Linked DNA regions of Homo sapiens: region 1 is linked to region 2. The links come from fine-mapping of genetic effects on gene expression. A gene starts in region 2. The other region holds a variant in brackets. All regions are shown on one strand. Distances are from middle to middle. Region 1 overlaps LRFN2 (leucine rich repeat and fibronectin type III domain containing 2). Region 2 holds the start of LRFN2 (leucine rich repeat and fibronectin type III domain containing 2).

Region 1 (5,370 bases), 180 kb after region 2:
GGGGGGTTGGAGGGGGGACCCATTCTGCTGCAAGTATTGAAGCCAAGATGCCTCCCTGCCAGCCCAGCCAGGGTCAGGCACTGCCCGAGTCTCCTAGTTTCTAGCCTGCATGAGGTTTGCCAGCCACAAATCCCTGAGGCCTGGATTTCCACCATCAGAGAGGCATTTCCTTGGGGTTACATGGGTTAAGCATGGCCCACTCCTTTATGTAACAGACCCTCATGCGGGGCTTACTCTGTGCCGGGCACTGACCTAGGTACTTTATGAATCATGACTCCTTGAATCCTCATAACAACCCTATAAGGCAGAGATTATGAACGCCCCATTTTACAGAAAGGGGATATTTCTAGGAAGCAAACACAGAGAGATTAAGAAACTTGCCCAAGATAAGGTATTACAGCTGGTATGTGCAAAACCAGGATTGGAACCCTACAGTCTGACTCCAGAGCCTGTGTGCATATCCACTGTACCCTGCTGCCTCTTCAGCTTCTCTTGCTAATGGCAGGTATTCCGATGACATCTATCATTGTTATTGGATCTATGAGGGATTTTTCTCAATAGAAATGTGTCAGATGTGTAATGGGTAGCTGGGTAGCTTGAACATGAGAGGCAGAAAAGCAGGAACCAGAATATCGAAACAAAGGACCAGAGGGGGCCCAAAGACACAGGCTGGCTAAGGGCTGGCCCTATTTGAGGACTGTGGGGAAGGCAAGGCAGCTTTGCCAGTGGGGCCAAGCCTTGGGAAGGGGCTGGGGCACAGGCTGAGTATGGGAGGCAGAGAGAACACTCCAGTGGGCAGATAAGCTTGAGCTAGGCCTGAGAGAATCCCAGAGAGGGCACGCTGAACCCAGAGGTCTTAGGAACCATGGAGAACTGGAAGAGTCATAAAGGAGGGATGAAGTTGTCCAGAGCCTCAGAGAGAATGGGGAACTGCTCAGAGGTCTAGATCAAAGCCTCCAAGACAAATTCATCCCTTGTGTGAACTCCCCAAAGCTGGACAACATCACCTGGACTGGCCCACCTGTTTGGTGCATGAGGGCTCACATAGAAAATGACAGTGTTAATACCACTTGCTGGGTACATGGATAGGGCTGCATAGCATGTTCTAGAACAGCACCATCCAATAGCACTGCCTGTGTTGATGGAAATGTCACACAGTGGCACTGTCCAATCCAGTAGCCACTAGCCCCATGTGACTACTGAGCACTTGAAATCTGGCTGTTATGACTCAGAAACTAAATTTTTAATTCTAATCAATTATTATTAATTTGAAGTTAAATTTGAATGACCACATGCAGCTACTATATTGGGCAGTGCAGTGTAGAATATTCATTTCATTTGCAAGTTCAACCAATGTTTTCAACGGTCTGTGCTGTGCCAAGTATCATTCTAGGTGTTGGGAAACTATCAGTGAACAAAACAGGCAAAAAAAAACAAAAAACAAAAAACAAAAAAACAACCCAAACAAACTCTGACCTCAGGGAGCTGACATTCTAGTAGACAGAGAGAAAGACAATTAACAGTAATCATAATAAATCAATGATATTGTCTGTTGGGCAATAAAAATGCATTGGGGAAAAATGGAGTGGAGTAACAAGCCTGGGGAAGCCCGCAGTGTTGATAACGTGATCTGGGATGGCCTCGCTGAGAACGTGATATTGGAACAGGGACCTGAAAGAGGCAAAGCAGCTAGCATATAAATATCTGGAGGAAGAGCATCCAGGCAGAGGGAACAGCCAGTGCAAAAGTCCTGAGGCAGGATTCCCCTTGGCAGATTTGAGAAGCAGTGGGGAGCCCAGATTGTAGAGTAAGAATGGGGAGTAGAAGGAGACAAAACCCAAGAGGTGAGGGGCAGATTGTCTGGGGCCTGTGAGCCATGTGAGGACTTTGACTACATGAGGTGGGCTTCACTGGGAGCAGGAGCAGGGTTGAGCAGAGAAAGACAGGATGTGACCTGGGTTTTAACAGGATCCCTCTGACCACTTGCAGAGAAGAGGCTGGGGGATGGGAGCAAGGAAGGACACCCAGACCCAGAGGCCAACTCAACAGGGGCTGATGCCAACCCTGCCTGCTGTCTTGCGGGCTGTGGAAGTGGATGTCCGGGTACACCTGAGGATTGAGGCAATGATTGGGGTGCTTTGTCTCAGAGCCTCAATCATATTGAAAGGAAAGTGGCCCCTTCACTCACTGAGAGTCTAAAGTAACTGCCAGTAAGGCAGGGGTGCCTCAGGGCATTTGTGGAAGCTCCATATTCTCAGGAGCCACAAGGGCAGA[A/G]GAACAGGGACAGAGGCCAGCCCCCAACCCCAGGCCTCTGGTCCCTGGCCCCAACTGGAAGATCAGTCTTCTGATCCTTGGAGCCCTCACTGAATCCCACCAGCTCCATGATCGTCCCACTCTAAAGAGCAGACATGTGCTTCCCCCATTATCACTCAGGCCCTGGTGCTTAGGGAAGGCCAGCATTTGGCACTAGTCACCAGTAGGCTGTACAACTTGTACTGGTAATTCTGGTAATTCTAACTACTCTGATCTCTAGGCCAGAAACAGCAAGTATGAGACACCGGCTCCAGAGGACTCTGTCCCACTGAGTTTAAACACAGCCTCAGAATCCTTAACATTAGCACCCAGCAGCCAATCTCAGAGTTGGAACAAAGAGTGAACATACTTGCAAGAACCTGGCTCCTATCTACTACCTTGGTGACTTCATTTCCTACTACTCTCCCTTTCCATCTCTCTGTTCCAGCCTCACCGTCCTCCTCACTGTTTCTACCTCAAGGCCTTTGCACTGGCACCTCCTTCCTGCCTGGAAACTCTGCCCATGGATATCCACGTGGTTCCCTCACTTCCCTCAGAATTCCCAGGAGCATGCGTCCCGAAGTAGAGAGATTGTCCTCCTCATTCACTGGAGTCCCATTTCTGGCTCTAATTAGCTATGTGAGCCCAGGGCAGTTCAGTTAACCACTGCCTCTAAAACAGGTAGCACAATTATTAGATGTACTTCCCGGGGTTATCATGAACATGAATTGAGGAAATGTGAAAGTGCTGGGTTCAATCTTGGCTGAGCACAATCCTCCTCTCTGTGAGAGCTTAGTCAAGTCACCTAATGTCTTGGAACCTTGATTTTCTCATCCATAATGATAATAAGACTAGTACCTCCCTCACAGGATTTCCCAAGGTTAAATTAACTAATACATGGAAAATATTCAGAACAGTGTTTGACACATAGTAAGTGCTCAATAAATGTTAGCTATCATTGTAAAGTAAGGCATGTTATTTTTTTCTTTTTAAATTGCTGGCAAACAGTTGGCCTGACTCCAAGACTTGCCTCCTGCTAAATCCTGATTCTGCTCAATTCAATTCAATGTAATACAGCATAGGGAAGATCATGCTCCGTGGCCTGGCAGACCTGGCTCAGCCACTTTCCAGCTGTGTGAGCTTGAGCAGGGGTTCTATCTGCCTGAGCCTTAGTTTCTTCATCTGTAATAAGGGGATAATTATTCCTACCTCATACAGTCAGCATGCAGAATCAAAGAGACTCTGCCTGTCAAGTTCCTGGCACGTAGTAAGTACTCAATAAATTGTATGCAGGATGGAACAACACTCATCTCCTCTACTCCCTTGCAGCTCATGCATGAAAGCAAACAGGTCCCTTTGGGGCTCGCAGGAAGAGAGAGAATCTGGGAGTAAGGGCTGCTTGGCTTGGTTTAATGAGGCCATGTCATGTAGTCTGAGATCTCAAGGCTAACTAGAGAGGGTGGCAAGCCAGTGGTTCTGTGAAGAGCCAGTAATGAGGACACAGAGAGCCAGGGGTCGGGTAGGGGAAGCCTGATGTGGCCCTTCCAAATTAGTGCTGAGGCTCAACAGGCAGCCATGGTGCATCACTGATGGAGGGAGGAGAGGACAGAGCACCTAGAAAGGCGTGGTGCTAGTGGGGCAGAGGGGAGGCTGGAGGCTGGAGGAATTATGCAGATACAAGAGGTGGTATTTGTTGACAACTCCAGGAAGGCAAGGATTTCTTGTATAGACACCAGCACCAATGTCTTCCTCTTACACAAACACACATTCACCCTGTCTCTCACTCACATACCTACTAAATAGCAAATACTTCAGGCTCACTTCATCTAACCTGTGGGTGTCTGTTAGTCAGGGGAGGCAACTGCTGTTGCAAATAATTGCCATAATGTAAAGCCTCAAGCAGAATCAAATTTGATTTCTCACTTTCCTAACAGTCCAGAGCGGTGTGCCAGGTTATCAGGAGACCTTCCTTATGGGAGACTTAGGTACCCAGTACGTACCTCCCTCTAGGCCTTGTCATCCTGCCCAAGGGTCCAGCTGGCAGAAGGAAAAGGGAGTGTGGGGAAGGCACCCGAGCTACTGAAGACCTGGCCCAGAGATGGCACAGATCATCTGGCACAGATGACATCCTCCACATCCCTTTAGCCAGAAAGGGTCACATGGGCACACTAGCTGCAAGGGAGCCTGGAGAGTGTAGCCTAGACTGGAAGCCATGAGAGAGGGGGAGAGTGGGGTTTGGTAGTCATTCCACAGGCTCTTCCTGGAGGCTGAGGACCAGGTGGAAACTCCCACTCCATTCCCATTCCTATTCCTGAGGCCCAAATGCCTTTTCTGGGGGGTAAACTCTGTTCCATTAGAAAAGAGGAGCCTCAGCCTACAGAGAGAGGTCACATAGGAAGTCACCTCAGAAGTTTCAGAGGATGTGGGAGCCTCTGGGGGAGGTGGGGTTAGGGGGTTGGTTGAAAGAGGGGCAGAACAATGACTAACATTGCCTAGGACCAGGACCCCTTATTGCCACATACATGTAAACACCTACACTCTGGCACACACTCACAAATACCCACACATTCAGCTGACAAATGATACTTCTTAGACACACATCTTCTCACACACAGGCATACACACAATCACATACCCCAAACACATATGTATATGCACATCCATGAAAGGTTTTCAGGAGCCCTTGCAGTAAGCCTCAAGGATATAGAAAAACACCTCTCCAGGCCGGGTGTGTTGGCTCATGCCTGTAATCCCAGCACTTTAGGAGGCCAAGGTGGGTGGATCACTTGAGGTCAGGAGTTTGAGATCAGCCTGGCCAACATGGTGAAACCCCATCTCTACTAAAAATACAAAAATTAGCCAGGTATGGTGGTGCATGCCTGTAATCTCAGCTACTCAGGAGGCTGAGGCAGGAGAATTGCTTGAGCCTGGGAGGCAGAAGCTGCAGTGATCCAAGATCATGCCATTGCACTCCAGCCTGGGTGACAGACTAAGACTCCATCTCAAAAAAAAAAAAAAAAAGGAAAAGTACCTCTCCAGAAAGATGTCCTCAGAACCAGCCAGTGTCTGAGAGTCACC
Region 2 (5,370 bases):
TGGCCTCTCAAGATGTATGTGGTCCCCATCCTGCTCCATCTGTCAAGGTTGCTTGGGGGTTCCCAGAGCTGGAAAGGCTCTTAGCAAATGCACAGTCCAAACCCTTTGAGGAAAAGGGACTTGTCACATTGCTTGTTAATACAAAGCCATGGTGAGCATCCAGGCCACCTGTGCCCCAGCACAGTACTCAGGTTATGTTGGGGCAAATGTAATTAGAAAAATAAACCAGTAATTCTCAGAATTACCAATGACCCAGGTCTTGGCTCTTCATGGAATATCCATGTTTCTGACTTGAGAAAACTTCTTGATGGAGTATTGGGTTCACTCTAGAGCAGAGATTGATCCATCCTTCCTATATCCCTCATTCACATCATTCTAATGCTTTTCTGGTTTCTAAAAGCAGCTCCATTTCTACTCTGGTGCCAGCTTGGTCCTATCCCTGCCACTCCGTTCTGGTTGTCTCATGGGTGACTGAGGGTTAGGGGAGATAACCTAGCCCACTGCCCCCAACCCTTGGGAGAATTCAAAGGCTTGAGCCCAGGCTGTGGTTCTTCCTAAGCCTTTCTTCCTGGGAGCTCCCGCCAATAGTAGGCAAGCCCTCAGGTAAGCAAAGAGTAAGGCAGTTTCCCTGCTGTTCTCCCCTCCTTCTTCCCTTCCCCTTCCTCTTCCCTACTTGCCCTCCCCAGTTTCTACTCCACACCTCCTTTTACTCACCTCTTCCTTCCTCATTACTTTCCTTCTCATGACTCTTCCCTACCTCTATCCCTCACTCCCTGCTCCTGAGTTAGATCCCTTCTCTCCAAGGCCCACCCCATATACCTTGAGTTTCATCTTGGCCATGCCCCTCCCCCACCAGGCTTTCCAGAATTCCTGCAGGGAGAGGCTTGTCTTCAAGGATATGCAGCATGCCAGTTTGGCAGTTTCCCGGGGTGCACATGTGGAGGGTGCACACATGAGGACCAGCTGCCTCGGCTTCTGCAGTTATGCATGTGTGTAGAGAGGACACAGGGTCGTATGTTACAGATGTATCCAGCCGAGCCAATCCTGGGCTGCAGAGACACATCCACATGCAACATGTGCCTCCCTGTGGGTAACCGGGACAGGTGCACGGGATGTGTTAGCCACCAGGAGAGAAGAGAAGGACTGCAACATTGACATTCTTCCTGCCCCTGGATTTACCAGCTGGAGTACCAACAGGAATCTCAAAATTTCATTTCCTTTAGAAGGAAGGAAATGCCTCTTGGGGAGTCCAGTAAGGCAGAGGACGGTCCTACCTTTCTGGTAACTAGTTGTTTATAGTGAACCGAGAGGATAACCAAAGACGAGACCTTGGCCAGACCTGGGTGTTCTGACTGTGAGCTCACAGTCTGCTTTGAGTAGGGTCTCCGCTACCTACCACATGCCTTGGACAAGTCACTTTACTCTTTTGGGCCTCAGTTTCCTTATACATCAAATGAGGGTTGCTGAGAAGATCAAACAAGTGAAGAGTTGTAAAGATGCTGTGCAAACACTTGGCGCCACTGCACCCTTCACTGATTCTTGTAATAATCATGAAAAGTCAAAGTGCGTGTGTGTGCGTGCACGGGGCGCTCGTTATTCATAGGTCCCTTACCAGGATTCGAGAATCTGAACTGGGCCCCAGGACTGGGTGGGCGCGATCGCCCCAGCCCCCACTCCCAGCCTAGGGCCGGCGCGGTCGGGTTTTCCTCCAGCAGGCGGCGGGCTGACGGCTGCAGGGCGCGCTAGGCACGTGAGGTGGCAGCGCCGTCGCCAGCTGCAGAGGTGCAGCCCTGGCCGCCCGGCTCGCCTTCCGCAGGGGCTGCCCGTGCCGCTGGACCGCGGAGACCGCCCTCCCGGTTCCGGGGCTCGCGGCCTGCCCACCTCCCTCCGCGACTGCGGCCCCAGCCCACTCCCGCCCCACCGTGCGTCCCCGCGCCACCCCTGCCAGGACCGTGAATCCCTCTGGTTTCCGCGGCGGTGTTGGTCGTCTCGGAAGCGGGTGCGCTCGGCAGCGGGCAGGGCAGCGGGCGCAGAGGCTGCCTTCGGCTCCTGCAGCTCCGCGGTTCGCCACTGGGGGCTGCCGCGCCGGAGAGCTCGGCGGGGACGGTGCGCACGGCCGCCGGGTTCCTGGGCGCCTCTGGCCGCTGGGTTTTCTCCACTGCTGGCCCTGCGCTGTCTCCGCAGCCCGCCCGACTCCCTCCCAGATTGGAGCGTGTGATCCGTGTGTGTGTGTGTGTGCGTGTGTGTGTGTGTGTGTGTGTGGAGCGGAGAGAGAAACCGGGTACGCGCGTATGCGCGCGCGCGTGGGGGGCAGTGTGCATGCGGGGAGTACGGGGGAGTGTGTTTGTGTGTGCGTGTGGGTGTGAGTGCCTGGCTCCCTCTCGCTGAGACACACATACACTCACACATACACAACCCGGCAGGCTCGTCTGAACTTGAAGACACCCCACATTCCAAGATGCCCGAGGTTCCTGGGAATGCCTGGGGTTCTTCGATCCGGAAAATCCTACCGGCATCCTCCTAGGGAGGGATTATTATTATTATTTTTCTTTAATCTGGAAGAGAAGAGAACAAGTTGTGCTTTTCCCCCCTTCTTCTTGCTAAATGCCATGGATATAACTGAATAAGCGGCTCAGGGCTTTCCCCGCGTGGACGTCCGAGGCCACCATCTGCCTGCATTCGCCGGAGCCGCCGGAGGGTTTAGCTCGAGTCTGTCTCGGGCGGGGAAGGATGCGTGGCCGAGCCGGGGAGCCCGGGCGCCCCGCGGAGCCGGCCTCGGTGCCACCCAGCCGGGGGTAGATGCTGCCTCGCCCAGGTGAGTGGTCGCCGGCGCTGCGTCTTTGCGATCCCGGGTGTCCGCGGGAGCTCGGCGCGGGGCTGAACGCACCCGAGGGAACCGGGAACTTTGCATCCCTTTCTTTTTCTCTTGAAGACTCCCCGCATCCTAGGTGCTCATGCGGACACCCCCTTCTCTTTTCGCCCATCCTTATCGCGAGAGATTTCCTTTCCTTTCTTTAGTCTTTATTTCCTACAGTGGGGGTGAAACTCTGGCGGGGAGCGGGGAGAGCCGGGTCCATGTGAGACTGGAGAGCCGGATGGAGAGACGGGGAGCCACGGGTGGATGGAACCGTTGAAAACAGCAGGAGAACTTTGCCGCCAGACCACTCTGTTGCATCTCCGCACATGCAAGGCCTGGCTAGAGCCATTGCTGGGGGCTAGGTGGGGGCGCCGGGGACTCCCTGAGCTCTGTGGACTGGGTGGGGTGGGGTAAAGCCAAGTGCGGAAGGGTTGATGCAGAGCGGATGGGAGGAAGGAAGGCATGGTTGCAGTTTGTGGGGGCAGGTAGGGCAGGTTCAGGGACCCTATGCTGGCCTCAGGCAGAAAGCAGATCAGGGGGATTGTGTGTGTGTGCAGCTTGGGGCATCAGAATGGCATGATGAAGCAATATGGAAAGTGGCATTAGCCATGCCTGGGTTCCTAGGTCTCTGTCTCCCACCCAGCCCTGCCCTGGTTCTAAGGTTGGCCTGGGCAGGGAGGAGGGAGAGCAGTAGACCGTTCCGAGGTGGACAGTGCCTTACTTTGCACAGACCTTCTGAGGGAGGTGTCCTACTCGTCTTCCCATCAGCCCGGTACAAAGGACAGAGACAGAGAGTTCTAGGGAGATAGAGCCTCTGAAAACCAGAGCAGGAGGGAGAAGAGAGCCTGAGTGGAGACCGCAGAGGGACTGAGCCAGACTGTTGCCAAATGCACCCGGCGACAGCAGACAGCTGCAGACGGACAGACACCTGCAGGGACAGGGAACATGTCAGAGCCTGCACTCTTGAGTTGGAGTTACAGGCATGGCTATAGATGATGACCCCCTCCCCTGGCCACAATGGAGTGTGTGTGTGTGTGTGTGTGTGTACGCGTGTGTGTGTGTACGCATGTGTATGTTTCAGGGAGGTGGCAGCTGTGGCCTCCATGGCCTGATTGGCCTTCTAGTACTGGGGGAGGGGGAAGCTTCAGGAATTTGACCCCCTGCTGCTGGGGAGGAGCAAAGCTAGGGAGGAAACTGCCATTCCCTGGGCTGTGAAGTTCCCAGGGGCCAGGGCTAGAGGTTCTATGTGGGCTGTTATTCTTGTGTGGGGGCCGATTTGGAACTCAAGGTGGGGAGCAAGGGAACTAGGTCTTGGGGTTGTGCCCTGGTCTGGTCGCTGCCCTCTGGCAGGAGCTTTATATAGCCACACACAGCAGAGCCCTGAGGGTAGTGTCATTTCCTTGTGGGGTACATCAGAGGCTGAAGGGGGTCAGAGTCCTGTAGGGAGGATTCAGAAGCTCCAAAAGGCCTGCACTTGGAGCCGTCATCCTCCGCCGACCATGCCAGCTGCCTGGGCCCTTCTGCTGATGCTGGAATGTCATCTTTCCCTTCTGACTCTGGCTGGGAGTGCAGAGTTGCATCTCCCTCTGGCCTCCTCACATGCTTCTGCTCAGGCCCCCTGCCCAGCCCTCAATTTAGAGTTTCTGGTCTAATTCCTGACCAGGAATGTAATTATTTATCTTCCTGCCCTCATCCTGGGGATGCAAACAGCAAACTTGGCATTTCTGTTTCAGCCTCTGGAAGGTTGGCTCCCAGTTCCATCTCCTGTCTAGAAGAACTGGGTGCCTGCCTGCTGTGGGCTGGAGGCTGGGGTTCAGGGCTCCTTCTTCTGTGAAGTGCCAGTTCTTTGCTCAGGCCCAGAAACGTGAGAAGCTGGGGAGTCTGGCCTGAGAGAGGGTGAGCTGGGAGCTTCCAGGAGGTGAGGCTGAGGAGGAGAAGCAAGATAGATGGGAAGAAAATGCAGTCAGAGTGGGTGGGGCCACCGGGGAAACCAGGCAGCCTTCTGGCCAACTGAGTCCTTCTTTGACTGAAGGAGGAATTGCTCTTCTTATCTTTGCTTCAGCTCCAAAGGAAAAAAAAAAAACAGGGATTCTGGCCTCCAAGTGCCAGTTTGCCAAGCCTCTTCAGCCTGTGGGGTTGAGCAGGTTCTGCTCTCCTTTTTTGCAGGGTGGATGTATAGAGGCTTATAAGCTCCTGGCGTGGGGTCTGTCTACCCAGGGACAGTGGAGAAGTGAAATTGGAATTAATTGTTTTCAGAAACTCCCCTTTCCTAAGGTAGATATTAGCATCTAGGGAGTTCACAGTCTGATGGGGGAGGCTGCTAGACTGGAAGCAGAGACATATAGCAATAAACAACCTGGGATGGCCAAGTGGAATTGGACTCTGAACAAGAGCAACAACAATTTGAGTATTTTGTGATTTTCCTTTGGGTAGGGGTGGAGTTTTAGGGTCCAACTTATTGAAGGGATAGAGTTGTCATATAATGGAATGAAACCTCAACTTGGGTGGCCTGG

Evidence for each region.
Region 1: its variant is fine-mapped to the expression of LRFN2 in whole blood (INTERVAL, PIP above 0.99).

Annotation. Positions count from the first base shown.
Region 1 is chr6:40,400,365-40,405,734 of GRCh38, reverse strand. All of the region lies in intron 2 of LRFN2 (leucine rich repeat and fibronectin type III domain containing 2), which reads left to right. Among named protein-coding and RNA genes, the nearest start is that of TDRG1, 25 kb to the right of the region's middle. The variant A/G (reference allele first, on the strand shown) is at 2,275.
Region 2 is chr6:40,584,386-40,589,755 of GRCh38, reverse strand. LRFN2 (leucine rich repeat and fibronectin type III domain containing 2) reads left to right here and starts at 2,392. Exons shown (of 3, transcript NM_020737.3): 1 at 2,392-2,815. RefSeq lists silencers at 1,960-2,029, 2,120-2,219.